Regions from separate parts of the Homo sapiens genome. Here all the other regions are reported to be linked to region 1. The links are microRNA targets in miRTarBase. Many come from high-throughput screens and were not tested one by one. Region 1 holds a microRNA gene; each other region holds the end of a gene's coding sequence.

Region 1 (7,423 bases):
TTTTTTCGGAGACAGTCTCACTCTTTTGCCCAGGCTGGAATCCAGTGGCGCGATCTTGGCTCACTGCAACCTCTGCCACCCGGGTTCAGGCAATTCTCCTGCCTCAGCCTCCCGCCCAGCTAATTTTTGTATTATTAATTAGTAGAGAGAGGGTTTCACCTTCTTGGCCAGGCTAGTCTTGAACTCCTGACCTCGTGATACACCTGCCTTGGCCTCCCAAAGTGCTGGGATTACAGGCGTGAGCCACCGTGCCTGGCCTTTTTTTTTTTTTTTTTTTTTTTTTTTTGAGATGGAGTCTGGCTGTATTGCCCAGGCTGGAGTGCAGTGGCATGATCTTGGCTCACTGCAACCTCTGCCTCCCAGGTTCAAGTGATTCTCCTGCCTCAGCCTCCTGAGTAGCTGGGATTGCAGGCATCCCATACCCGGCTAATTTTTTTGAAACAGAGGCTTGCTCTGTCACCCAGGCTGGAGTGCAATGGCACGATCTCAGCTCAGTGCAACCTCCGCCTACTGGGCTCAAGCAACTCTCCTGCCTCGGCCTCAGCCTCACTACAGGCATGTGCCACCACGCCTGGCTAGTTTGGTTTTTTTTTTTTGTATTTTTTTAGTAGATATGGGGTTTCACCATGTTGGCCAGGTTGGTCTCAAACTTCTGACCTCAAGTGATCTGCCTGCCTCAGCCTCCCAAAATGCTGGGATTACAGGTATGAGCCACCACGCTTAGCCTTCTGCTGAATTTTTGAGAAGCATACATAAAGACAATGTAAAAAACTTAGCATATTTGTTTGGCCCTGCTAAGGGCATGGTTGAATATATAGTGTGTGTGATGTATTTGGTGTATGAGATATATATGATCTTATCAGACATAAGTAAAAGAAATTCATTCTTCAGGAAAAATTTTCCCCATAACTGAAGTGTCAATCATTTGAAAAAACTTCTAGGCAGTAGGCAAACACTGTGACTAGTTATTTATCAAAAATAAGCAGACTTTAGAGTTTTGTAACTGATGAGAATAATCTGGCTGCTTCTTTTGTACTTCAGTCACTGATACTGCGAATTAGAGTAGCATATACAGAAGGATGCAGGGGGTCCCTAAAGGAATCACAGAATTAGTGAAACCATTATTTGAGAGTTGCAGTGATTCTTCTGTCCTGGCACTTTTCCCAGTTTTGGTGCTTAAATTTACTATCCACTTGAAATGTGTCACTGCCTGTCACTTCACAAAGTATGTGCCTTTCACTGCAGTCAACAAGCTGTTTACATCTTTGATGAAATGATTGCCACGCATCTCCATAGCCCTGGTGTTCTATTCCCTTATTCACAGAGATTTTTTTTAAAAACCAGCCTAGCAGCAATAGGTATGTGCTGTGGATGCTTCTCCATGATGATAAAGGATGAGTTTGTGCTGGGATCTCCTTATGAAAAGATAACTGGCCAAGCCCATGAGGAACAAGAATGTTATGCTAATCAGACCCAAGGTAAACAGCCTGCAGTGCACCTCCTGACTGATTAGCACTGAACCCACTTGGAATCATCAACCACAGGCACGTGGTAATTGGATGTTCTTCTAATACACATAGTGAGATTGTAAAATGAGGATGATATATGAGGAAAGTCAGACGGAGAAACTAAAGTTCAGTTCTTAAATACAAGCCAAGGGAACAGACTAAGTGAATGGTACAGCCAGGATTGGAGCCTGGTTTTCACAAGGTGGTATGTCATGATAAAACAAGCCAAAGAAAAGGTTGGGTAGTGTTTTGAGGCTAAAAGAGACCAAAGAGTCTTAGTGAATCAACCTTGATGCGATCTGGGTTTGAAAAACCTATAAAAAACCTTTTGTTTGGAGAAAGTGGGAGAAGTTGGATGTAGGCTGGATATTTGTGGGTACCAAGGAATTGTTTGTTTTCTTAGGTATGGTAAGATTTTGTGGTTATGTAGAAGAGTGTCTTCATTTTATAGAACGACCTCAAAGTAGTTAGGAGCAGTGTATGTATGGGTGGTTATCAATTTACTTTCAAACAATGCAGCAAAAAATATGTATCTATATTACATATAATTAAAGCAAAACATGATAAAAAGGAATAGTTATTGAATTTAGATAGTATGGATTTAGGAATTCATTGTATTGTCATTCCAATTTAATGTATAAAATTTTTTATAACAGTTTATAAAAACAGTGCACACCCCTTTAATTAGGTGGCCTGGGTACATGAAGTATCTTTTTGGATGCCTAGAACACAAAAAGGGACGACAACAGGCCACCTAATAAGATGATACCAAGAACTATACCATGACGGCGAAAAAGAACTGCTGCAAAAAATAATTTGCCAAGGAGAACTCAGAGTACAAAGCCTTACCTTTGGAGTAGAGGGAAGGAGAGTCTTAAGTAAAGCTCACAAAAACCCCTAACTCATAGATGCAGTCTAAGGAATTCATTCCGGAAGCGACATTAGCATCTCATTAGTGCCATTATGTGACTTACTTGGCCTCTGAGCTAGTCTATTTTCTTCCCTAGACCCCAAAATCTCAGTAATCCTTTGGATCCAAGTTATCTCCAAGTGAAAATAATAGGTTTAGGAAAGCGTTTTTCTTCAACTTCTATGGAGCACTTGCTTGCTTTGTCCTATTTGCATGTCCGACGGACGGTTCTCCAGCACCACTGCTAGTCGTCCTCCGCCTGCCTGGGTACTTGATCACAGGATGCCTCTGACTTCTCCTGCCTTTACCCAAGCAAAGGATTTTCCTTGTCTTCCCACCCAAGAGTGACGGGGCTGACATGTGCCCTTGCCTCTAAATGATGAAGCTGAACCTTTGTCTGGGCAACTTAACTTAAGAATAAGGGAGTCCCAGGCATGCTCTCCCATCAATAACAAATTCAGTGACATCAGTTTATGAATATATGAAATTTGCCAAAGCTCTGTTTAGACCACTGAGTAACTCACAGCTAGGTTTCAACTTTTCCTTTCTAGGTTGTCTTGGGTTTATTGTAAGAGAGCATTATGAAGAAAAAAATAGATCATAAAGCTTCTTCAGGAAGCTGGTTTCATATGGTGGTTTAGATTTAAATAGTGATTGTCTAGCACCATTTGAAATCAGTGTTCTTGGGGGAGACCAGCTGCGCTGCACTACCAACAGCAAAAGAAGTGAATGGGACAGCTCTGAAGTATTTGAAAGCAACAGCAGGATGGCTGTGAGAACCTGCCTCACATGTAGCTGACCCCTTCCTCACCCCTGCCAACAGTGGTGGCATATATCACAAATGGCAGTCAGGTCTCTGCACTGGCGGATCCAACTGTGATCGAAAGTTTTCCAAAAATAAGTTGTGTCTGTATTGAACATGAACAGACTTTCTTCTTGTCATTATTCTCTAACAATACTGCATAACAATTATTTGCATACATTTGCATTGCATTAAGTATTCTAAGTAATCTAGAGACGATTTAAAGTATACGGGAGGATGTGTGTAGGTTGTATGCAAATACTACACCATTTTCTATCAGAGACTTGAGCATCTGTGGATTTTGGTATCCAAGGGGCTTTCTGGAACCAATCCCTCAAGGATACCAAGGGATGAATGTAATTGTACAGGATATCGCATTGTTGGAATTTTATACTTCTTTGTGGAATAAACCTATAGCACTTAATAGATAGTACAGACTCATTCCATTGTGCCTGGGTTAAAGAGCCCAATGTATGCTGGATTTAGTAAGATTTGGGCCCTCCCAACCCTCACGACCTTCTGTGACCCCTTAGAGGATGACTGATTTCTTTTGGTGTTCAGAGTCAATATAATTTTCTAGCACCATCTGAAATCGGTTATAATGATTGGGGAAGAGCACCATGATGCTGACTGCTGAGAGGAAATGTATTGGTGACCGTTGGGGCCATGGACAAGAACTAAGAAAACAAATGCAAAGCAATAATGCAAAGGTGATTTTTCTTCTTCCAGTTTCTAAGTTGAATTTCACTGACCTGAATTGCATGTGGTATAATACTAACAAATGGTTCACTATTAGCATATCATGAATGGTTATACTTTATAGAAATTCCATAGACTTGGTGGGGGTTTTGTTTTGGTGACGGATACCTAGAAACACTCCTGGGGAAAATCGATGACTGGCTTAGATGATGGGAAAGGAGCAGCGAGGGAGTCAATTCTGTTGTTGATGAGAAGCTGCACCAGCTATCTCTGAACTCTCCTCTCTTAGCTGGCTGAGGAGTTCCCTCCATGGTTAAACAGGTCATTTTCTTACATAAGGAAAAATGGTCCAGAGAAACTGGGTTTCTATGGCTGAGACAGAACTGTGCTAATATGTGTCAGTTCAGTTTAGAAGGCAAAGCAACAAAAGCAGGTGCTACTTGAACTAGGATCCTAGAGTATACCTTTGATATGGTTTGGATGTTTGTCCCCTCCAATCTCATGTTGAAGTGTGATCCCCAGTATTGGGGGTGGGGCCTGGTGGGGGTGGTTGAGTGATGGGGCGGATCCCTTGTGAATGGCTTGGTGATGTCCTCACTTAACGAGTTCCTGCTCAGTTAGAGGGAGCCGGTTGTTTAAAAAAGCTGGCACCTCCTTCCTCTCTCTTGCTCTTTCTTTCTTGCTCCCTCTCTCGCCATGTGACATGTCTGCTCCCTCTCCGCCTTCCACCATGTATAAAACATCCTGAGGCCTCATCAGGAGCCGAGCAGGTACCAGTGCCATGCTTGTACGGCTGCAAAACTGTAAGCCAAATAAACCTCTTTACTATATAAATTACCCAGTCTCGGGTATGTCTTTATAGCAGCGCAAAACGGACTAACACAACCTCACTAGAAGTGAAGTCATTAGACCAAAAACAATACTGAGTTTTTAGGTCCACTAAGAGGCAAAAATAAAAGGCTCTTTATAGCAGCATGATTTATAATCCTTTGGGTATAAGCACATGTATGCTAGAACTTAAAGTATAATAATAAAATATAAAAATAATAAAATAAAATAAAAGGCTCAAGAATGAGCCATCTCGGCCGCTCCTCCTCCAGGGGCCCCTGTGTGCAGCTCCCAACACAGGTACTGCACAGACCGGCCACCTGCTGTCCCCATGTGGCGTCCTGGAGAACTGCAGGGGCACCTGGTGGAATTTGGGCCTTGTCCTTCTGTTTTCTTTCTGGCCTGGAAAAGCCACTGGCCTCACAATCAAGAGTTAATATTCTATCTACCCTGCTTAAGCTTTCCCGCCCTCTCACACTGCCTCCCTCCTTTTCCCTCCTGCCTGTCACTTGTCTGGAAAAGGCCTTTTCTCCTCGGGGCTAACACATGCAATTTGTAGCCAAAACATTCTGTCTACCACACAAATCCAACGAGAATCAGGATCATTCCACCACATCTTTTTCTATCCCATGGTTATTATTTTCCCAAAACTCTTGTCTTTTGCTTTCTTACCTATTCGCTGTTTTCCCTAAGTAATCTTATTTACTCCCCTGGTTCCAAATACATCCCTATGTGTTGATTTCCCTCAAACCAGAGGTCTGGCCTGGGATATTTTTTGAGACATCTTGCTTTTTATATTTTTAGTAGCTCCTAAGTATAATAGTTCAGCCTGCTCTTCTAAACTTGTCTCAATTTAATCCATTTATGCTTGAGGTTGCAATTTTTTGAATTTTTGCCATCAGACCTTGGCAATGACCTTGAGCAGTAGGAGACAACTCCCACATGCTTAGCATTCCAATAATGGAACACTAGGCATATACCAAAGCCATCCACATTGCCTTCTCCCCAAAGCCAGCTCTCCCTGCTCTGCCCCATGGTGAAAGCTGCGAACACCAGAGGTCTGTGACCTCTTCCCTCTCCCTTACCCACATCCATACTCAGCACAACTTGTTGCTGTTCTCTCTCAATTCTCTCTTTAGGATCCATCCCTTTCTCTGCTCTTCCTAGACAGCTTTCTGGGCCCACCCCTCGCCATTAGTCTAGCTTTGTTATAGCCACCAGTTAATCTTTGTAAAATACATACGTGAGCTGGGCACGGTGGCTGGTGCCTGTAATCCCAGCTACTCAGGAGGCTGGGGCAGGAGGTTGCTTGAGCCCAAGAGGTTGAGGCTGCAATGAGCCATGATTGCATCACTGCACTCCAGCCTGGACGACAGACCAAGATCCCATCTCTTTAAAAAATAAAAATAAAAATTGTTTAACCACATGACCTTGCTCCTTGTCCCTCACTTTTAGCTGAACTCTTATAAGTGTGTCAACCAGGTACCAGACCCTTCATGACCCCATGCCTACCTGTGTCACCATCTTCTGGCTGTGCTTCCTGGGGCCTGTGTTCTGTGCTCACCCAGCTGCTTGCTGCTGAGAACACTCAGGTATCTTGGCATTTCTTAGCCTGTGTCTGTGCTATTTCCTCTGCCCACATCTCCCCTCTCCTCCTCCTCGTCAGCTAGGGACCTCCAGCCCCTAGGGACTGTAAGCTAGGGACCTCCAACCTGCAGCCCCTGGCTCAGGTGTAAACTTGTCTAGGAAGCCTTCCTCTGCCTTCTGCATCAAGGCTTAGATCCCTGGGCAAAGGCTTTCTTCTCTGTACCCCTTCAGAGCCTGATGGCACTTCGCATGTTATATTCTCATGATTGATTACCTACTAGGCTTCTCTGCAAGGCTGGAAAATCCTTGCTCCTAGGAGGGACGGTAGACAAGAACAAGACATACTGTGTACACTCCATTCTTACATTCCACGTGAGCTATCCTTTGTGTAGGTGTCTGTGGCAAATCTTCCTTCTAGGCTGCAGCCTCTACTTTTCATAGTTTCTCTCCATTTTCATCTGCCATGTGCATGAGGAATAAAAACTACTTCCAATGATGACCAAAATAAGATGGAAGAAAATAACCCTGCTTCAAAGAACATTTCTGAGACCATAAATATGATTTTGATGTATCTTCCATTATGGATTACCCATGTGGTTTTTTTTTTCCTTCTAAATGCATAAACAGGAATTGTTTAATAGGCTAGAGAGCCATGAAAAGCAAAATAATTAAGGATTGTTGTCCTCATTTCATAGAAGAGCAAACAAAGACAGAAAAACAGATGTGCCTTAACCAAAAAGGGCAGTAAATTTATGCAAAGCAGACTGAACCCCCATTAAAAGTAATCATTTACAGCGACCAAGGGCCAAGCACGTGATCACCACCCTCCTCTCCCAATAGCTCTGAAGGGTGGGTAGTATTTCCCCAGCTTATGCACGAGGAAACAGATGCACAGGAAAGTCAAGTAACTTGCCTGCAATGCCACGGCTAGTCAACATGAGAGTTTGAATTACAAATCAGGTGGCGGTGGCGGTGGTGATGATGATGATAATAGCAGCTTATCATCATCATTGAGCTCTTATTTTGTGTTAGATACTTGGTAAGTATTTTGCATGAATTAGCTCATTTAGTCTGACTTTCAAAACAGCC
Region 2 (7,423 bases), not on the chromosome of region 1:
TTACAAGTGTGAGCCACTGCACCCGGCCATTACAATCTATTTTTATCTAGCCTCTAGAGCAGGTGTCCTAAGTAAAAGACAAAAACAACAACAAAAAAACCCATTTTTTTGTTTTGTTTTGTTTTTTGAGACAGTCTCACTCTTGTTACCCAGGCTGGAATGCAGTGGCATGATCAAAGCTCACTGCTGCTTCAACCTCCCAGGCTCAAGCAATTCTCCCACTTTAGACTCCTAAGTAGCTGGTACTATAGGTGTCTGGCTAATTTTTAAATTTTTTGTAAAGATGGGGTCTTGCTATGTTGTCCATGGTAGTCTCAAACTCCTGGTCTCAAGTAATCCTCCCTGCTTGGTCTCCCAAAGTACTATGAGTATAGCTCTTTTTTTTTTTTTTTTTTTGAGATAAGAGTTTCACTCTCATTGCCCAGGCTAGAGTACAGCAGCATGATCTCATCTTACTGCAACCTCCACCTCCTAGGCTCAAGCGGTTCTGCTGCCTCAGTCTTCCGAGTAGATGGGACTACAGGCATGCGCCACCGCACCCAGCTAATTTTTGTACTTTTTGTAGATATGGGGTTTCACCATGTTACGCAGGTTGGTCTCAAACTCCTGAGCTCAAGTGATCCGTCGGCCTCGGCTTTCCAAAGTGCTAGGATTACAGGCATAAGCCACAGTACTTGGCCAAAATTCTTTATGTGTTAATGAAGGCTTTCCAAAATACTTAGTTATGGCTTAAAATAGTTTACTTAGCCATGTCTTTTTTCTAGGTTGACCTTTCTGAATGATCAGACTGCAAGATAGAGTTTAAAATTAATAAAATATGTTTTATTATCAAATTTCTAATTCATTCATTTTTTATAGGGAAGAACTTATAGAACTGAATTATAGTGGAGAAAAATCAATACAGGTTGAGTATCCCTTATCCAACATGCTGGGACCATTAAGTGTTTCAGATTTCAAATTATTTTGGATTTTGGAATACTGGGCATTACACCAGTTCAGCATCCCTAATCTGAAAATCTGAAATTCTAAATGCTCCAATAAGCATTTCCTTTGAACACTATGTTAGTACTCAAAAAGTTTTCAATTAGGGATGTTCAATCTGTAGATCTAAGAATGACCAAATTAAAATATAAGAATAAGGCTGAGTGTGGTGGCTCAAGCCTGTAATCCCAGCACTTTGGGAGGCCGAGGCGAGTGGATCACCTGAGGTCACTTTGAGAACAGCCCGGCCAACATGGTGAAACCCCGTCTCTATTAAAAATACAAAAAGTTATCCGGGCGTGGTGGCGGACGCCTGTAATCCCAGCTACTTGGGAGGCTGAGGCAGGAGAATCACTTGAATCTGGGAGGTGGAAGCTGCAGTGAGCTGAGATCGCACCACTGCACTCCAGCCTGGATGACAGAGTGAGACTTGGTCTCAAAAAAGAATATAAAAATCTTTGCCTCTGAATACTATTTTCTCAATTTAAAAATAATTAGTGAAGCGTTTCTTTGATTTGTTGGTAAGCAAATCTTAGGGTAAGAAATATCCAGAAACATTAATGATCAGTGAGAGCTGATGGAGAGGATAATTTTACAGATACTTAGACCCCAAGAACTCATAGCCCTTAACTGAGAGCAGCAACCCGAGTTGTCTCTAGTGCATCCATATGTTTGCTTCTCTTGGGTGACATGGGTCAATACGTTCAAAGTGCAGTAACACTGTAGAATGAGTAAATTTGGGCAGTACTAAACTTGCAAAGAATGGAAGTGACTAAGGACTCCAGAGAAAGCATGATCCTTGCATCTGCTGGGAGGTTAACAGTGGTTCCTAGTTTTTTAGGGAAAAAGTGAGGCAGCCCTGGGAACACAGACCCTAAAATGTAAGATTTTATAAAACTTCATAAATGTTGTCATCTTATTTTAATGACAGCAAGAGTTAAATATAACGTACAATATGATATGAGTAACATTTTATAAAAAAAAAAAAATTTTTTTTTTTTTGAGACGGAGTTTCACTCTTGTTGCCCATGCTGGAGTGCAATGGCGCGACCTCAGCTAACTGCAACCTCCGCCTCCCGAGTTCTAGTGATTCTCCTGCCTCAGCCTCCCGAGTAGCTGAGATCACAGGTGTGTGCCACCACGCCTGGCTAATTTTGTATTTTTAGTAGAGACAGGGTTTCTCCATGTTGGTCAGGCTGGTCTCGAACTCCTGACCTCAGGTGATCCGCCCACCTCGGCCTCCCAAAGTGCTAGGATTACAGGCGTGAGCCACCGCACCCGGCCCAAAACATTTTTTAAAATAATTTTTATTATGTCATGGAATCCTCTTTTTAAACAAAAACACAACAGATACTCGGTCAACTGGAAAACAATTTATAGAATTCTATTTACATGTAACTTCTCCAGAGCGAATATCTTATACAAAGCAAGGATGTGGGTTATTTCAATCAAATAACATGAAGTCGCAATTAAATGACCAAGCTAACTCTCCTTGAAGTCTCTAACCATCTGCTAATTTATTTAATACAAAATGCTTATTTGGTCTTTTAAATGACAGGCAACTTTGAAAGTGTATTTCACCTATTCTTGAGAATTCTACTAGGCTTTAGCTACAAGAATATAGCACCAAAATCCATTTTAATAGTATTAATATTTGCCACTAATATTGAGTTTTTAATACATACAATTTCATGTAGGAATACTGGAAAAATTCAGACAAATATGAGTATAACATTTTATAAAATGGGTAATAAAAAGCTTTTTTAAAAATAGCAATTTAAAAACACAAAGAATATTCTTTTAAATAACCACATAAGCTGGTTAGACTACAAAACCTAAGGTCTCAGAAAACCTTTGGCTTAAAAATTAAGACTATTGCAAAACCCTAATCTATTTATTATAAAATTTTAGAGCAATTTAGAAATACTGAAAGTTACTAAGAGGTGCCAGATTTTTAAAGATTGAAGTAAACCCGATTTTTCTCCCTTATAATTTTGGAAAGATTTTGTAAATTCAATTGGATGAATGTTCATATTTAATGTCACTTATGAAGAAATCATTTCTTTCAGTTATACAATGAACTACTATAATGCAGAATTGAAATGGTACAAGCAAAATACTCAACTTCATACTTTGATAAATAATATATGAAAAAGATATTACCCATAAGTATGATGCAAAATTTTAGGTAGAGTCCCACTTACCTATATTAAAAACAAAAACAAAAACAAAACTTAAGGGATGAAGGGGGAACTATTTATCAACTAATTGACTTACAGGACAATGCAAACGAGGATGCCTGACTGAAAGTCTAGGTGACCAATTCTTTCTGGTAGCCTGAGATGCCTGCTCCATGCCTGACTCCCAATCTTGCTGGAACTGTGCAGTCTCTATAAAATCAAGTACAATCAAAAAGCTGCATATGCGGGGAAAAAAAAAGAGAGGAGAAGAGAGGGAGGGAGAGAAATAGGTAAATAGAGAAGGTAGGAAGGGAGAGGGATGGAGGCAAGGGAGGCAAGAAAGCAAGCAAGTGAGCCTTGCTAACTTAGAAAAATATCAGTGGCCTTTAACTGACAGGGAATAGTGCAAAGTTAACCTTTGGCCCCTATAAAACATTGGATACTGATTTAAAAAACAAAACAAAACAAAACCAAAAAACCAAAACAAACCAAAACAAAAAAAAAAAAAGAGAAACACCACAGTTCTTATGAGGGAAGCTTAGCCTGTTAAGAAGGCTTATTACCATAGCACACAAGAAGCTGCCTTGCTTATTAGATAAACTGTCCAGCCCAAGCCAAAGTAGCAGACATATTGCAATTCAATTTCAAAAAGTTTGTTTGTTTGTTTGTTTTTTGAGACAGAGTCTTGCTTTGTCACCCAGACTGCAGTGCAGTGGTACGATCTCAGCTCACTGCAATCTCCATCTCCCAGGTTCAAGCAATTCTCCTGCCTCAGCCTCCTGAGTAGCTGGGATTACAGGTGTGCACCACCACACCCGGCTACTTTTTTGATTTTTAGTAGAGACAGGGTTTCACCATGTTGGCCAGGCTGGTCTTGAACTCCTGACCTTAAGTGATCCACCCACTTTGGCTTCCCAAAAGTGCTGGGATTACAGGCGTGAGCCACTGCGCCCGGCCCAAAAAGTTTAAAAAAAATTAATAATGATTAGCCACCTTGCCTTCCTCAGAAATGAGACTTTTCCCTCCAGAAAAATCTCTGTAAATGATACAGCCAGGCCTGAATTTTGAGGCCAGGGCTACCTCAGATTCCATTCCTCCCTGTTTTCTGCAGCTGTAAATGCCTCTGCCATCTCCTGCTCCAGGGGCTGCCCTGAGACAGAACATGAATACAAGTCCAGACCCTCTACCCAGCATCAGCTCTGCAGTCTCAAATCAGTCTCCCGACCACAGTACTCTATTCAATTGTTCACCTTAATACTTTGAGCAAGAAAGACTGCTTTTATTATAGAAATGACTTTTATAAATATTGATAAAAGTATAAGATGAAAGGAAGCATATACTAAAAATTAGATTTATGAAGAATAGCAGTTTTCCTTCTTGGTTGGAAGATTTGTAGCAGTGATTAAATACTGTTTATGCAATTCTGCACTGCACATAGGAACTTCTTCGGATATGGTGTAACACCAAGTAATTTACATACATGCCAGCTTCCAACTGACTTACAGTAACCATCAGTTTAAATGACTGTTTTGCAAGTGCCTCATACTGGAAATCTATCATATTTATTATCTTTGATTTCATTGTTTAACAGTTTTCTTTTTTCTCTTACCCTAAATAACTAAGAGTTGGCTGTACGCCTTTTTTGGGGGGTGGGGAGGGAGGTGGTGAAAACAGCTTTTATTTTTTACTATTAGCTTCCACAAAAATTTAATAATGCCCACATTATTAAAATGAAACACTGGAATGAACTTCGACCTCACTATACTTTTAAATAAAGTATGTAACCTGGCAAAGCTGATGACTTTGTTTTAAGAAGACCTGGGTGTTGCTACGTCACATCAGACAAGTGCAGTAACCTGGAATGCACAGACGACCACCCTCTCTCCCTGGAGACCTGCTTTAGCTCCTACACAGATGACTAGATTTTGAGTTAACTGTTTTAACATTCTGGCATTTTGTTCTCTTGATAAAGAAAAATCACACCCTTGCCAAGTTCATGTATTTTAAAAAATGGAAAACTCTCCAGGTCACGGAGTGAAGAAAACACTTAAGTGTTTTATGTCTAAATGAAGCAATAACAATTCTGATACCAGCAACATCCCTTTTGATTTAAAAAAGATTGGTCCTCACAATGTTCAAATTATTCTACACAAATGACCTGTGAAATTTTTTACAGTTGTATTTTTTTGCCCAAGATTCATCATAAATCATTCAATTAAACTAAATTAAAATTGATTTTAGCAGAAAGTAGAAATGTTTCAGAATATAAAATATCACATTACTGATTTTACAATTTGATAACAACTAAAAAAAAAATGCATGTCACTAAAAAAATTTTTCCAGTCTTTTCCCTTCTACCCAGGAAAATTTTACATGATGTCACCAACATGAGCCCTTGGTGATCTTCTGAAGTCTTCCAAAGATTACACCTTTGCAGACTTACTGGTGATCTCCTTCAACTCGTCTCTTACGCACTATGAGAAAAATAAAAGAAACTATGTTAGAAATCCCTATTAGTTTTTACAATGGTAACTTGCTTATAACAAGCAAGTTTCTGCATAATCCAGTTATAAGTTTTACAAAATTGAAATGTCCATTTCCAGTTCACATGACCACTAATTAAAAAAAAAAAAAAAACAACCTACTTCCCATCATTCACCACTGTCATTTACTTGTTGAGAACCAAGGGGCTTCAACAAAAGAATTACATGCCCTAAGCTCAATGACTCATAGCTGTGCTTACACAGCAGCAGCACTAGAAATCTAAAACAGAATGGTCAGCAATCATCTACAAGTCATTTGTTTTTGTTTATTTTTAACTTTGTAATTTATTAATAAAACAGACATTAGGTCTCACTATCTTGCCTAGGCTGGTCTTGGACTCCTGAGCTCAAGTGATCTGCCCGCCTCAGCATCCCAAAGTGCTGGGATTACAGGTGTGAGCCACTGCGTCCAGCCCAAGTCATTTGTTTACTGAAAAAGTACATACTCAGGTTTTAAAAAACAGCTAATAAATTAGTGTGTTAAATTTTGAAGTGACATTCAGGCAGCTGGGGTTAGAACATATTAAAAGTAACTATTTGCATGCTCTCCTGATTAGACACTACAATGTATTTCCTTAGGCTGTAAAAGAATATACCAAAAACATTTTTGTCATTTTTATAGGTAAGTGATTTGCTACTGCTTTCTGAATTTTCCTTCTTTTGTCTCCTGTAATATAAACCAGTTCAGGGTCTGATAAAACAACAAATGCAAAGTAATGAAAATCTCAGACCCTGGTAATATGGTGTGGTCACTTCCGGCTACCATAAACTTTGGCTGCCTAAGTGGCCAGTCAACTAGCTCAGCTTTTACAGCAAAGAACGGTACATGTATGTATCTGAGACTACCAGCCTCTTCCTGGACTGGTGATGTCAAACTACTCAGGGGTGTTCTCTAGTAGCAGAACAAGGTCTTCAACTTCAGATCTTGCTACCTGCGCTCTCACCTATCAGCCACTAGAGAGCATTCACTGAGGGCCACCAATTCAGGGCTATCAGCATTGTGGCCGGCTCCTAGAGAGGACAAAAACCACAGGTTCCAGAGTTGATGACAAATAGAGTGAATCATGGCTCTGTCACTTCTGTAGTGTGTACTTTGGCCTAAATTGGCTGTTTGACAGAGGAACTAGAAGCCAACAGGTACACCTGGTGTCCTGGCCAGGCCATAGACACTCTGCTCTTGTGCTCTTCTGACTGCTGACTTCTGTTTGTCGGCCTTTAATAGATAAGACCATACGTTCAGATGACGTATATAAAATCTTGTTCAGCCATAGGCTGGGTGCTTGCTTGAAAATAAAACCAGAAGGACTAAAGTATCAGGTTCCCACGAACATTTTTATAACTATCTAATTAAGTTCGCCTGACTCTTAAGTTTATTTTATTTATTTTTTGCCAGAACTCAATAAAAATAGGGATTGCTTCATGAATGTCTGTGTCATCCTTGCAAGGGGCCATGCTCATCTTCTCTGTATCATTCCAATTTTAGTGTATGTGCTGTCAAAGCAAGCAACCGACTCTAATTTTAATCCATGCTAACAAAGACAAGTTTCATGTGTTCACTGAAGTATTAAGAAAAAAAATTAAATGGAGACTTGAGCCCTCAAATATCAAATCATGTATATAGATCTCTGAAAAATATAGAAATGTCTGAAAGGCAAACTTCAGATAATTCTTTTTTTTTTTTTTTTTGAGACGGAGTTTCGCTCTTGTTGCCCAGGCTGG
Region 3 (7,291 bases), not on the chromosome of region 1:
GCTGGGACTACAGGTATGTACCACCACGCTGGGCTAATTTTTTCTTTTTTTTTGGAGATGGAATCTTACACTCGACCAGGCTGGAGTGCAGTGGTGCCGTCTCGACTCACTGCAACCTCCGCCTTCCAGGTTCAAGCGATTTTCCTGCCTCAGCCTCCCGAGTAGCTGGGACTACAGGCACACACCACCATGCCTGGCTAATTTATTTTGTATTTTTAGTAGAGACAGTGTTTCGCCATGTTGGCCAGGCCTCAAGTGATCTGCCCATCTCGGCCTCTCAAAGTGCTGGGATTAAAGGTGTGAGCCACTGCGCCCAGCCCAGTTTTTTTTTCTGTTTTTTTTTTTTTTTTTTTTTTTTTTTTTGAGACGGAGTCTCACTTTATCGCCCAGGCTGGAGTGCAGTGGTGCAGTCTTGGCTCACTGCAACCTCTGCCTCCCGGGTTCAAGCGATTTTCCTGCCTCAGCCTCCCAAGTAGCTGGGACTACAGGCATGTGCCATCACGCCCAGCTAAGTTTTTGTATTTTTAGTAGAGATGGGGTTTCACCATGTTGGCCAGGATGGTCTCGATCTATTGACCTCGTGATCCATCCGCCTTGGCCTCCCAAAGTGCTGGGATTACAGGCGTGAGCCACTGCGCCCGGCCCCCAATTTTGTTTTTAATGGGAGAAGGATCAAATGAATCAATCTTGTGTCTGTTTCCCTTAGGAAACTTGACAAGTTTGGAGGACAGGACGTCTACCTTCTTCCTGTCTGCAAAGTCTCTGGCCTTCCTCCACATCTACTGACATTTTTTAAATTGTATCATACCTAACATTCTTACCAAATTATTTCAGTACCAAATCTGGGTTTGTAATATCTGTATCTATATCTAGTGTATGTACCTATACAGTTAGCATCTGCGATTATTCAATTGGTCTGATTCCCCCATCAGGCTCTGGGCTGTGACTGAGAGTGGCCTTGCCTTAGTATACGGGTGTCACTCAGATGGACCAAGCAGCAGCCAAGTCTCCAGGAGCTCCAGTGACTCAGAGGCCTGGAGTCTCTTCTGTAGCTACAGGGTTCCCACTTTCATGAGCAGAGATTATGCAAAGGTGACCTCTACTGACCAAAGGAAGAAACGGCCGTTATACATTCCCTGTTCCTTCTAGTTCTGCAAAATGACTGACATAGTCACTGCTGTTGGCCAGGCACTTGACATGTATTATTATGCCATCATCCTTGCATTTGTAATGTCTACATCTACAAAGTGGGCATCATCACCCCGCTTTATAGATGAGGAAATGGAAGTTCAGGGAAGTGAAGTAACTCCCTGAGTTCTCACAGTATTAAGAGGCATCGCTAGGATTCAAGCCAGGTCTGTCTGATGCCAACGACTCCGCGCTGTCCACGAGGCACCTGCCACTCAAAAGTGTGGCTCAGGGATTACCAGAGCGTTGGCATCTTTGGGATTGTTAGCGATGCAGACCTCAGGCCCCACTCCAGACCTAGTGAATCAGAATTTATAGCCCAAGGAGAGCCACCAGGGGATTTGCGATAATTGTGTGCACTTGTATGCATGTTAAAGTCTTAGAAACAGGCTGGCCGCGGTGGCTCACGCCTGTAATCCCAGCACTTTGGGAGCCCAAGGTGGGCGGATCACGAGGTCAAGAGATCGAAATCATTCTGGCCAACATGGTGAAACCCTGTCTCTACTAAAAATATAAAAATCAGCTGGGCGTGGTGGCGTGTGCCTGTAGTCCCAGCTACTCAGGAGGCTGAGGCAGGAGAATTGCTTGAACCCGGAGACGGAGGTTGCAGTGAGCCAAGATCGCGCCACTGCACTCCAGCCTGGGCAACAGAGTGAGACTCCAGCTGAAAAAAAAAAAAACGTCTTAGAAACACCCTGACTCCCAGGAGGTGGCAGGGAAACCCCAACATGGGGCCTCTTGGGAAGAAGTTGAATTTGTACATTTCTTTTCTTTTTTGTTTTTTGAGACAGGATCTTGCAGTGTCATCCAGGCTGGAGTGCAGTGGCACAATCACAGCTCACTGTAACCTTAAAACTCCTAGGTTCAAGTGATTCTCCTGCCTCAGCCTCCTGAGTAGCTAGGACTACAGGTAAGCACTATATATATATGTTTTTGTTTTTTTTGAGGCTGAGTCTTGCTGTTGCTGAAGCTGGAGTGCAGTAGCACAATCTTGGCTCACTGCAACCTCTCTGCCTCCTCGGTTCAAGTGATTCTCCTGCCTTAGTCTCCTGAGTAGCTGCGATTACAGGCGCCCACCACCACGCCTAATTTTTGTATTTTTAGTAGAGACAGGGTTTCACCATGTTGGCCAGGCTGGTCTTGAACTTCTAACCTCAAGTGATCTGCCCGCCTCAGCCTCCCAAAGTGCTGGGATTATAGGTGTGAGCCACTGTGCCCAGCTTTTTTCATATTTTTTTTTTCAGAGATGGGTCTTACTATGTTGGCTGGCCTTGAACTCCTGGCCTTATGCAATCCACCTCCCAAAGCGCTGCAATTACAGACCTGAGCCACTGCACCTGGCCTGCTCACTTGTCTATTTATGCAAGTTAAAAGCACTGTCTGCCTCCAGTCTTACAACCTGTGGGACCATGGGCAAAATATTTAACTTCTCTTAGCTTTTGCTTCTTCATAGAAATGTAAAGACCACGATTGTGCAAGTAAAGTGTCAGCACAATATAAGAACTCAACAAACGCTGCTATTCATTCATTCATTCTTTCAGTAACTACTGAGCGCTTGTGCCAGGCACCGGTGGAGGCGCCTGGTGGGTAAAGAAGACATAAGCCTGCTCTCATAGAGCTTACAATCTAATGGGAGAGATGGACATTAACCAAGTGCTTACAAGTATTTGGGACATTAGGATGGGGATGTCTTTTTTCAAAAATCTGTAGGCTGGGCACAGTGGCTCACACGTGTAATCCCAGCATTTTGGGAGGCCGAGGCAGGTGGATCACCTGAAGTCAGGAGTTTGAGACCAGCCTGACCAACATGGTGAAACCCCATCTCTACTAAAAATACAAAAATTAGCCGGGCATGGTGGTGGGTGCCTGTAATCCCAGCTATTTGGGAGGCTGAGGTAGGAGAATCGCTTGAACCCAGGAGGTGGAGGTTGCAGTGAGCTGAGATTGCGCCATTGCACTCCAGCCTGGGCAATAAGACCACTCCAGCATGGGTGACAAGAGGGAAACTCTGTCTCAAAAAAAAAAAAAATTGTATACATTTTAGGGGTACACATACCATTTTGTTACGTGGCTATATTGCATATGGTGAAGTCTGGGATTTTAGTGTATCCATCACTGAAATAATGTACATTGTATCCATTAAGTAATTTCTCATTATCCACCCGTCACACCAGGATGAGGATGTCTTGAGTGAAGTGTATGAATGGATGAACTTGGCTGTTTGCACTGGAGTACGCCTGTGGCGTAGACGCATCCTTTCCTTCCTTCTGTTGAGAGACGGTTAAACTCAACCTCGTTATTCGCTCCCTAGTCAGGCCCAAAGCCCAAAGCCACCCTACCCTTCGAGCCTTTCTGAAGTATTTCTTCCTTGCAGGGTCAGTCCCCCACTTTTACTAGGAGTTGGAGCCTGACCTTCACTTGAGTGTGGCTGGAGCGGAGAGGGGAAGTGTGGTGAGAGATGAGTTGGTTAGACTTGACCCTAAAGGCAAGAGGGAGTCATTTAAGAACCTCCCAACACACAGTCAATGTCTGGCTACCTTGGCCACTTTTCAGTTCCTGAAGTCATGTTCCTCCCAGCTCAAGGCCTTCGCACATGCAGTTTCCATTGCTTGGCAAAGTCTCCCCACCTCTCTTTACTAATTCCTACTCATCAGTCACAGGCCAGCTCAAACATCACTTCCTCCAGGAAGTCTTCCTTGACTCCCCAGACAACTTTCCAGCCCCCAGACTAACACACTGTATTTTCCTTCCTTGGCACTTAACCACAATTTGGAAGTGTATATTTGTGTCATTGCTTGCTTAGCATCAGTCTTCCCACAACTAGGCTGAGAGCAGTACTGGAGTCTGTTTTGCTGGTTTTTTTTTTTTTTTTTTTTTTTTTTAAGATAGAGTTTCACTCTTGTTGCCCAGGCTGGAGTGCAATGGCGTGATCTCGGCTCACTGTAACCTCTGCCTCCTGGGTTCAAGCAATTATCCTGTCTTAGTCTCCCAAGTAGCTAGGATTACAGGCATGCGCCGCCATGCCCAGCTAATTTTTGTATTTTTAGTAGAGACAGGGTTTCAGCATGTTGGCCAGACTTGTCTCGCACTTCTGACCTCAGGTGATCTGCCCACCCTGTTCTCCCAAAGTGCTGGGATTACAGACGTGAGCCACTACACCTGGCCTTTGCTGGTTTTCTTGCCAGCACTGAGCGTGGTGACTGGTGGCTCCATAACCAAGACAGCTGGGACCTGCTCAACGCTCGCCTCTGAAAAGATGGGGGTGGATACTCAGGAGTTTAAAGCTCTTGCCAAGATCTGAAGTCAGGGGGACAGTCTGAGACCACAAAGGCACAGGAAAGACAGTGAGGGCTTAAGTGAAGGCAGAGGTCGCAGGATTGGAGACTGCGATACATTCCTAAGTCACTGGAGAAGGATAGGTAGAATGTGGAAGAAAGCAGGGGTGGCAAGAGCCACTTGCAGGTCCCTGCTTGGTAGAGGGAGCATGGCGGTGCCATTCCGGAGATAGGGGTCAGAGACAGTGACATGCCATCTACACCTCCTACCCCAGCCCTTCTTCCTCCTGGCAGTGGCCTGGACTCTGTCCCCAGGATCAGACACAGGGGACACGGCTCAGCAGCACAAATCCCTTTTATTAACCATCTTCCCTTTCTCGAGTATACACAAGTAGAAAAGAAACAGTGAAGTACCCCGATAGGGAGGGTGGGGAGAGGATGGGAGGGGGCTCCTGAGGTTAGGACAAGAGGCCAGATTCCAGCTCCTTCTCCTGACTGGTCTGTCTCTGTGCAATGACTCCACTTACATCCCTTGACCCCCGAAACACGGCACTGGGGGACTGCAGCCCTGCTGACCAGGCTGTCCTCCTAGCCCTGTCAGGGACTGGTGCTGGCAGAGCTTGGTGCTGTGCCACAGACTGACAGAAAACAGCACAGTGGGTCTGGCCCCGGGGGCAGAGAAGATCAGGCACCAAGAGGGGATGTGAGAAAAGGCAGTTTATCCATCTGGGGACTGGACAGAGGCCCAGCCAGCCTCCAACCAGCTTCTGCTTCTTAGATCGGACTGCCCTGAGTGGCGGGCGGCTCGGCAGGGGGTCCCTCTCGTACCCTTTACAGAGGTTTTGGGGAAGAGGGGACAAGGAAATGCTAGGGGCTCCAGGTGGAGGAGGAAGTCTGATTGGTGCCTGGGATTGGCCAAAGTGAGAGGGGGCAGCTGAGGGGCTGAGGTGGTCAAAACGGGAATATAGTGGGGAGTAGGGTGGGAGGTGGGGAGATAGCCTATCTCTTCGCCCTCTCTGGGGTAACAATTCCAGTGTGACATCAATGTGGCTGGCCACTGAGGCCAGGCCTGATGGACGTGCGTTGCTGAGGAGGCTGGTAAGAGAGCCCCCACTGTCCCCAATTATGTGCGTGGGAGAGACTGAGCTACACAGTGAAGTGAGATGGGAGGTGAAGAGGTAACGGGGTGAGGGGGAAGGAAGGAGCAGACAAAATCCAGACTGGAAGGGAAACTTCCAGGCCAGTGTGGCAGGCTCAAATGCTGCCCATCAGTGACAACCCAGCTGCCTTTTTGTTTGTTTCTGTTTTTTTGAGATGAAGTTTCACTCTTGTTGCCCAAGCTGGAGTGCAATGGCACGATCTCAGCTCATTGCAGTCTCTGCCTCCTGGGTTTAAGCGGCTCTGCTGCCTCAGCCTCCCAAGTAGCTGGGATTACAGGTGCCCGCCACCATGCCCGGTTAATTTTTTGTATTTTTAGTAGAGATGGGGTTTTGCCGTGTTGGCCAGGCTGGTCTCGAACTCCTGACCTCAAGTCATCTGCCCGCCTTGGCCTCCCAAAGTGCTGGGATTACAGGCGTGAGCCACTGCGCCCAGCCCTGCCTTTTTTTTTTTTTTTTTTTTTTGTCTCTGGGTAGTCACGCTAGGGCTGGCAGGGGAGGAGGCAGAGGAAAGGCAGGAAGAAGAGAAAACATCACTGAAAAAGAAGGTGTCGGGGAGGTACACCCTGATTCTGACCAGCCCAGCCCACACAGAGGGTCTGAAAGGTTCTCAGCCTTCTCCATCACCCACCCTGCGGCCTCTGAAAAGAGGGGCCCATCTCAGACACAAAAGCAGATACTCCCAACCTTATGGGGAAAGCTAACGGAGGAATACTCACAGCACCGTGGCACGGGACGGCCCTTGGCTTCAGAGCCGGGCTGGCACCGTTTGTAAACATTAGACCTGGTGATGTCTGGGGATGGAGGAGGAGAGGGATGCCCAGCCTGGACCATCAGGTTTGATGAAAGAGACAGGGTGGGGCCCCTCAAGGCCTGGGAAATGTCTATTAGCTATGGGAAAGAGGCTGACAGGTTCATGGTGGGGGTTGCCCAGGAAGGTGTGGACAAGGTCTGAATCTACCTGACTATGCATTTGCATGACTTCAGTGCTACCGTTGGAAGTGGCCAGGCTCCTGAGGAAGCTACCACTGGCCTGGGGTAATGAGCACAACCCCTACTCAGGACAGGGTGCTCTGTGGAGGATGGTGGCCTTCTGTCCATAGTCATTCTCCAGAGGGAAGTCAGACTGGATTCTTTCTTATGAGATCTACCGACTCTCTTCACCCGTGGATTCCAGGCATGGAGAAGTTGAGAACTGGGAGAGGAGGAGGGGTCCTCTATGATGTGAGACTTCCTGCCGCCATCCACGGCACTGCCAGGACTGGGGAGCAGGAAGGGGACTGGATTTGAGCTGTCCAGAGGTGTGGGGCCTGAGTTTGCCCCAGTCCCTGGAAGAGGATGTCCGGATGTCATCCCACCAGTTGGAATGATCGTGGACTAAGAATGGCCCCATAGCTCTAAGAGATGGGTTCCTGCGACCAATGGCAAAGGCCTTGTGTTCCCTGGGAGGCAGTGGTTATGCCAAGAGATCCACAAAGATGGCGTTGGCTGTGGTCTGGCCGAAGATGAAGGCTCCCAGGGTGACCAAGAGGACTCCGTAGCTGACCAGCACCCACCAGCTGTAGAACAGAGGGTGAGAGAGGTCTGATCAGTCATCCCATCCCATGACTGCAGACTTCAATATATATAACTGTTAATTACTGTAATTATCGCACTTCTCCTGTTGGTAGA
Region 4 (6,901 bases), not on the chromosome of region 1:
CCTGGGGCACAAAAATTGTCCCTGGTTAAGGCCCACTGTCATAATAGACTGTTATAATTCTCAAGATTTGCCTCCCTACAGGTATTAATTAAGGCATGCATATAAATTTCTATTTTTTTCTGTCATCTTCTTCCCTTTAATTCTACTTTTTCTTGTGAAAGAATGTGAAAACTTTCATTATGTTTCTGGTATTTTTTTTTCTTCCTCTCACCCCTAAATTAAAAGTACTTTAGAAAGAAATAGCACAGTTGTCAAGGTAAATGCAACTCCTGGCTCTTTGCCTTCTTTCATGGGCTCTACTAAGCACTGAGAGTTTGTGGAATTTTCTCCTCTCTCCTAACTCTTGCAGGCAGCCTTAGATCATGAGGTTGTGGGGAGACTTAGTTTTAGACCTTTCTGTCACTCTGACCTACTCATGTATAATTCTAATAACTGAAGTTGAAGTGAAACAGTTTCTCTGAGAATGCAAATTGCTACCCACAATCACTTTCTATTCTGAATGGTGCCTGTGCCCAGAAGGTCTGGGTGCTGTTTTTAGTTCTTAGAACTGTGCAAACCCCAGTCACACACACACTCAGCCAGAGGCCAGAGTGTTTCTGAGTGTGCTTCCTTTAAATGGTTTTCCTTGCTAACCTGTGTGAACACGCCTGGCTGCTTTTTGGTTCCCTTCTGGTCTCAGTTCTCCTTTTACCTATTTAAGGCCAGACTTTATGATAAATTTGTGTTTATCATATAACACTGGTTGGCATGACATTGTGGATTTCTTAAAGCATTCCGTAGTCTCTTGTTCTCCGTTACTGATGTTTCTTTTACACCTGATACCACAACTCCCCAAAGTTTATCATGTTGTATAGAGAAATTTAAATTCTCATAAAACAAAAACGTATTTATTCTTTATTTATTTTATTTATTTATTTATTTTTTTTGAGACAGAGTCTCACTCTGTCGCCCAGGCTGGAGTGCAGTGGCGCCATCTCAGCTCACTGCAAGCTCAACCTCCCAGGTCCACGCCATTCTCCTGCCTCAGCCTCCCGAGTAGCTGGGACTACAGGTGCCCGCCACCATGCCCGGCTAATTTTTTTGTATTTTTAGTAGAGACGGGGTTTCACTGTGTTAGCCAGGATGGTTTCGATCTCCTGACCTCATGATCTGCCCGCCTCAGCCTCCCAAAGTGCTGGGATTACAGGCGTGAGCCACCGTGCCCAGCCACTATTCTTTATTATTATATTAACATTGGTTAATCTTCTGCATTTCTTTTATAAGATTTTTTAACATAATGTGCACGTTCAGTTTTAATGTGGCATTTTAATAATTGTACTTAGGAAGATCTCATGGATTACATGATTATTATAAATTTATCTTGTGTTTCTAACTGCTATACTTCTCTTTGCCCAGCCTACTCCTACAAAAAAAGAAATCAACTCCTTGGTTTTAAGTTTCTCAGCCTGAGCAACATAGTAAGACCCTATCTCTCTCTCTCCTTTTTTTTTTTTTTTTTTGAGATGGAATCTCGCTCTGTTGCCCAGGTTGGAGTGCAGTGGCACGGTCTCAGCTCACTGCAACCTCCACCTCCCACGTTCAAGCAATTCTCCTGCCTCAGCCTCCTGAGTAGCTGAGATTACAGGCGCCTGCCACTACGCTCAGCTAATTTTTTTTATATATATATTTTTTAGTAGAGACAGGGTTTCACCATGTTGGCCAGGCTGATCTCGAACTCCTGACCTTGTGAGCCACCACGCCTGGCCAGTAAGACCCTATCTCTATCAAAAAATAAAAATTAGCCAGGTGTGTTGGCACACACCTGTGGTCCTAGCTACTGGAGAGGCTGAGGCAGGAGGATTGCTTGAGCCCAGGAGGTTGAAGCTGTAATGAGCTGTGATTGTATCACTGCACTCCAGCGTGGGCAACAGAGTGAGACTCCATCTCAAAAAAAAAAAAAATTCTTTTGCTTATTAGAAGTGAATCCTTTTACTGTTCCTCTCCTTCTGAGCCAGGAGTAGCGTGTGTGATATAGCCAGAGGTTTTTCTGTCAGGTGCAACTATAGCTGTAGTAACTCTTCCCAGTGTTATCAATTCCATTTGAGTGTAGGGGCCATCAGAGGAAGGTTTGTGGCATTAGGCTGCTGGATTGAAATGCTTATGCTTAGCAGATTACCAGTGTTCCCTCTGTTCTCCCTTTGTGGTTTGCCGGCAGGATTTCCTTTCACCTTGTCTTCCCAGATTTGCCCGTAACTCCCACCCTGACAGAGCACAAGGCCAGTGATAGGCCTAGAGTCCTCAGCAAATTGAACAGAATGGGCCATCTTCCTCTTCTATCCAGGGAGTAGAAACTTACTTCCCTGTTAAGTTGTTTATCCTAAATTTTGTCTAGTCTTAATGGTTTGTGTTCCTGATTATAGTTTGAAAGCTGCCTTAATGAGAGTATGTGTATGCCTGTTTTCTACAGTTTAAGATAAAATCTTGTTGGCCTTTGAGTCAAAATTTGAGATTCCTGAAACCCCAAATTTGTGTTTGACTGTAACTCACACAGACACATTAAAAACACTGTTTTTTTGAAATCCAAACTTTAAAATAGGGTAAGTTTTGAAGGTGATTTTAAAACCAGGCACAGTGGCTTGCACCTATAATCTCAAAACTTTGGGAGGCTGAAGCGGGAGGATCGCTTGAGCCCAGGAGTTCAAGACCAGCCTGGGCAACATAGCAAGAGCACATCTCTACAAAAAAAAAAAAAAAAATACAAAAATTAGCCAGGCATGATGGCACACACCTGTAGTCCTAGCTACTCAGGAGGCTGAGGTGGTGAGATCACCTGAGCCCAAGAGTTTGAAGCTGCAGTGAGCTATGATCACCACTGTACTCCAGCCTGGACGACAGAGACAGACCCTGTCTCCAAAAACAGAAGTGATATTTTAAGTAAAATATTTACTATGCCATTAAATAGCCAGTTCTTCAATTACATAAAAAAATTCAACATGATTTAAAATCAACTGTTTAGGAAAGCATCTATGGTGTAAAGATATCCATGATGATAATGAGCTGAGTATATAGTTCATTCTTCAGTATAGGAAATTAAAATGTGAGTTTATCAGAATGAGTAACTTAAAGAGAAATTGCATATCTCTTTTCCTGCCTTTTTAAATGTAAGAATCTCTAGAAATATTTTTTGTTTAAAGTAGTGGTAGAGCTGTAAAGTGATTGTTTTTTAAATAATTATTTTTAGAAGTTGTATTTTTTGGGTTTTTTGTTTTTGTTTTTGAGACAGGGTCTCGCTTTGTCACCCAGGCAGGAATGCAGTGGTGCAATCATGGCTCACTTCAGCCTCAACCTCCTGGGCTCAACAGATCCTCCCACCTCAGCCTCCCAAGTAGCTAGGACTAGAGACATGTGCCACCATGTCCAGCTAATTTTTCTATTTTTTGTAGAGACGTGGTCTCACTATGTTGATCAGGCTGGTCTCAAACTCCTGGGCTCAAGTGATCCCCCCACTTCAGCCCCCTGAAGTGCTGGGATTACAGGCATGAGCCACTGTACCTGACTGGAAGTTGTATTTTTTTAAAACTCCTAAGTCCAGTGAGATTATTACATGCAGTATAGCTTATGTTAAACAAACATTACTGTCTTAGTCGGATGAGTTTTGGTCTCAAAACTCATGTAAGAATAAAACTACTTAGTCTGGGCACAATGGCTTGCCCCTGTAATCCCAACACTTTGGGAGGCCAAGATGGGCAGATTATTTGAGCTCAGGAATTCGAGACCAACCTGGGTAACATGGCGAAACCCCGTCTCTACAAAAAAATAACAAAAATTAGCCGGGCATGATGGTGGGCACCTGTGGTCCCAGCTATTCAGAAGGCTGAGGTAGGAGAATCACTTGACCCCGGGGGGGTGGAGGTTGCAGTGAGCCAGATCACGCCACTGCACTCCAGCTTGGGTGACAGAGTGAGACCCCATCTCATAAAAAGAATAAAACTACTTTTGTAACTGTGGAGAAATCTGTGCATCTCAGGAACTCTCCCTGATGGACTTTGAGTTACTCTATGATTTACATGTCTAGAAATCACTAGATTGGACACTTCCATTTACAGCTAGCATTCAGGGCGGTCACCTCAAGTTCCCAAATCTCCTTTGTCTCTGCACATTAATGAGCCAAAAATCCAATTACTACTATAAACGAATTGATACTCACTGTAAATATTTGAAGCCAGAATGTGTTCAGACTTTTCTCAGAACATTTTCATGTCTCAGTTAAGCATCAAAGTAGAAAAGGAAAAAAAAATTTACTGGGTTTTTGTGTGTGTGTGTGTGTGGTTTTTTGTTTGTTTGTTTTGCCCCCGGAATAACCTCTGGTGATTTTTGAACACATGGCTCTTGGGCAATGTACTGTGAATTGCTTTTACAGCTCTAACTCAGGAACAAAACATGCTATGAGATTAAAGCCTTGGAAGGATTACGTGAACTTACTTTAAACTTCATTTTGGACACTGAAGTAATTACTATGTGAAGAAAAAAAGGAGTCTTTAAGCAGTCTCTAACAAAGTGGCAAGTTACTATTAATGGTTGATTTTATTCAGCTGTTTTTGTTTGGTTATCTGAGAAGAGAATATCAGTACCATGGAAGTAGAAATAGACAAGAAGTTTATAGCTCCAAAGTGCTTATGATCTCTTTGGGCAGATAGTACACGCTTTTTTTTTTAATCATAATATATGTACTTATTACAGAATATAGTCACCATCATTTGTCTACTGACAAGATTACATGAAAGAAAAGAAATTAACATTAAGAAATGCTTATCTTTAAATGTTCACTTAAATATTAGAAAAAATTGGGGTGATTTACTTAACTATGCACATATACATACATACATACATATATATATATATATATATATATATTTTTTTTTTTTTTTTTTTTTTTTTTTTTTTTTGAGACAGAGTCTCACTCTGTCGCCCAGGCTGGAGTGCAATGGCATGATCTTGGCTCACTGCAACCTCCGCCTCCTGAGTTCAAGTGATTCTCCTGCCTCAGCCTCCCGAGTTCAAGTGATTCTTCTGCCTCAGCCTCCCAAGTAGCTGGGACTACAGGCACACACCACCACGCCCAGCTAATTTTTGTATTTTTAGTAGAGGTGGGTTTCGCCATGTTGGCCAGGCTAGTCTCGAACTCCTGACCTCAGGTGATCTGCCCACCTCGGCCTCCCAGAGTGCTGGGATTACAGGCATGAGCCACCGCACCCAGCCCACTTCAATATTTTCATCAGTAAATTAGTATACTTTAGAGTTGTGGTGATTAAAATAATATATGTAAAGCATATAAGTAGAATGCTTGGCAAACAGCAAGTGCTTACTAAGCGTTAGCTACTCATAATAGTAACAGCTGATTTAATAATAGGATCTGTAAATAAGATAGTATTTTCTGCTCTACAAATGAAGAAATTAACACGTACAGAGGATAAGTTAATTTGCCTAAGATTGTCCAGCTAAATAAAAAGTAGAGCCAGATTGAACCCAAGAAGTATAACTTCAGAGATCAATCTCTTAACTGCAATACTATTACACTCCCTTATTATTCATTCATTTATTTCACAAAAAATTAACTGCCAGGTACTGTTTGTCACTAATAACATTATTTATATTGAATACAGAAGAAAATATGCACAATGTGATGAAGATGGGCATATAATGACATAGCTTTTTACTTTGACAAAGCCTAATCCAAATATTTAAGCATTTTTATAAGTATCATCTGCTTTAAAAATATAGTCAATGAATATTGCTTCTCCCCAATAACATGAGCCAGATAATTTCAAATAAATAATATGTTTATAAAACCTTGGATTTTTTTCACTGTATTATTCATGCATTTAGGTAAGATGTGAATGAGGATATTTCTTATTTATTTTTTTACTTATTTTTATTTTTTTGTTTTGTTTTATGAGACAGAGTCTCGCTCTGCCTCCCAGGCTGTAGTGCAGTGGCACGATCTCCGCTCACTGCAACCTCCGTCCCGGGCTCAAGCGATTCTCCTGCCTCAGCCTCCCGAGTAGCTGGGATTACAGGCGCCCACCACCATGTCCAGCTGATTTTTGTATTTTTAGTAGAGACAGGGTTTCACCATGTTGCCCAGGCTGGTCTTGAACTCCTGACCTCAAAATGATCCACCCACCTCAGCCTCCCAAAGTGCTGGGATTACAGGCGTAAGCCACTGTGCCCAGCTACTTATTTTTAAAGATTTTAAAATTACCAATAAACACTAGCCATAGATTGACCCTTGTATTCTAACTACCAGAAAGCAGACAAGTCATAAACCATTTGCTTCTTTATCCTAGTCATGAAATAACGTGTTCTGAACAGAAGCACTGACAGTTGAGTTTAAACAGAAAACAGCCTGTTAGTTTCATATGAGTGGGATCCTTTCAATATGCTTAATTTTTGCTTCTGAAAGTTTCTGCCATCTCAACGTTCAGTATAACTGTTTTTTGAGTTTTATGAATATATGTTTATTTATTTTTAAAAACCAAAGAGATTTTCTTGGTGATTATTGTCAACCAAGCTGTGACATGTTAATGATGTAGTTTAGTGTCCCTAATAAAGTCACATGAATGCTTTTCTTAATATTGTGGGGTTTTCCATTCAAAAGTCAACCATATGATTGCATATGTGCTGAATTAGACTTTGTAAAGAGATTATATAGTGTCTTCTTGAATGTTTTATCTAATAAAAGAAATATAATGGGGTCTGTGCTACTTCTGGCCGAAGCAAGACAGGTGAGAATGTTTTTTGTTTCTATTAAATAATTCAATTGCTGACAGTTATCTCTTTGGTGTAGAACATAAAAAATGGGTTTAAAAATACTATAAGGAAGGAAGCAAACTATTAGTAGAATCTGGATGACCAAAAGATG

Evidence for each region. The annotated mature microRNA hsa-miR-29a-5p reads ACUGAUUUCUUUUGGUGUUCAG and lies in region 1 at 3,760-3,781, shown strand. An mRNA with a match to its seed (bases 2 to 7 or 8) in the 3' UTR can be bound and repressed. Matches are read on the target gene's strand: a 7mer-m8 pairs with bases 2 to 8, a 7mer-A1 pairs with bases 2 to 7 and ends in A, and an 8mer does both.
Region 2: miRTarBase lists TMOD3 as a target of hsa-miR-29a-5p. Seed matches in the 3' UTR shown: 7mer-m8 at 5,443-5,449 and 7mer-m8 at 3,604-3,610.
Region 3: miRTarBase lists SLC38A7 as a target of hsa-miR-29a-5p. Seed matches in the 3' UTR shown: 7mer-A1 at 5,357-5,363.
Region 4: the mRNA of GPR82 is a reported target of hsa-miR-29a-5p. Seed matches in the 3' UTR shown: 7mer-m8 at 6,077-6,083 and 7mer-m8 at 5,375-5,381.

What each region holds. Positions count from the first base shown.
Region 1 is chr7:130,873,144-130,880,566 of GRCh38, reverse strand. It overlaps MIR29A (microRNA 29a), which reads left to right and starts at 3,757; the gene lies at 3,757-3,820. MIR29B1 (microRNA 29b-1) reads left to right here and starts at 3,028; the gene lies at 3,028-3,108. It also overlaps a transcript of LINC-PINT not described here. RefSeq lists a silencer at 5,008-5,207 and an enhancer at 5,003-5,297.
Region 2 is chr15:51,906,988-51,914,410 of GRCh38, reverse strand. TMOD3 (tropomodulin 3) reads right to left here. Exons shown (of 10, transcript NM_014547.5): 10 at 1-5,635. The coding sequence ends at 5,601. It also overlaps the pseudogene RNU6-90P. Among named protein-coding and RNA genes, the nearest start is that of LEO1, 61 kb to the left of the region's middle. RefSeq lists an enhancer at 5,884-6,053.
Region 3 is chr16:58,660,309-58,667,599 of GRCh38, forward strand. SLC38A7 (solute carrier family 38 member 7) reads right to left here. Exons shown (of 12, transcript NM_018231.3): 12 at 4,801-7,179. The coding sequence ends at 7,077. Among named protein-coding and RNA genes, the nearest start is that of SLC38A7, 21 kb to the right of the region's middle.
Region 4 is chrX:41,727,774-41,734,674 of GRCh38, reverse strand. It overlaps GPR82 (G protein-coupled receptor 82), which reads right to left. Exons shown (of 3, transcript NM_080817.5): 3 at 4,545-6,901. The coding sequence ends at 6,638. All of the region lies in intron 5 of CASK (calcium/calmodulin dependent serine protein kinase), which reads left to right. Among named protein-coding and RNA genes, the nearest start is that of GPR82, 7.0 kb to the right of the region's middle.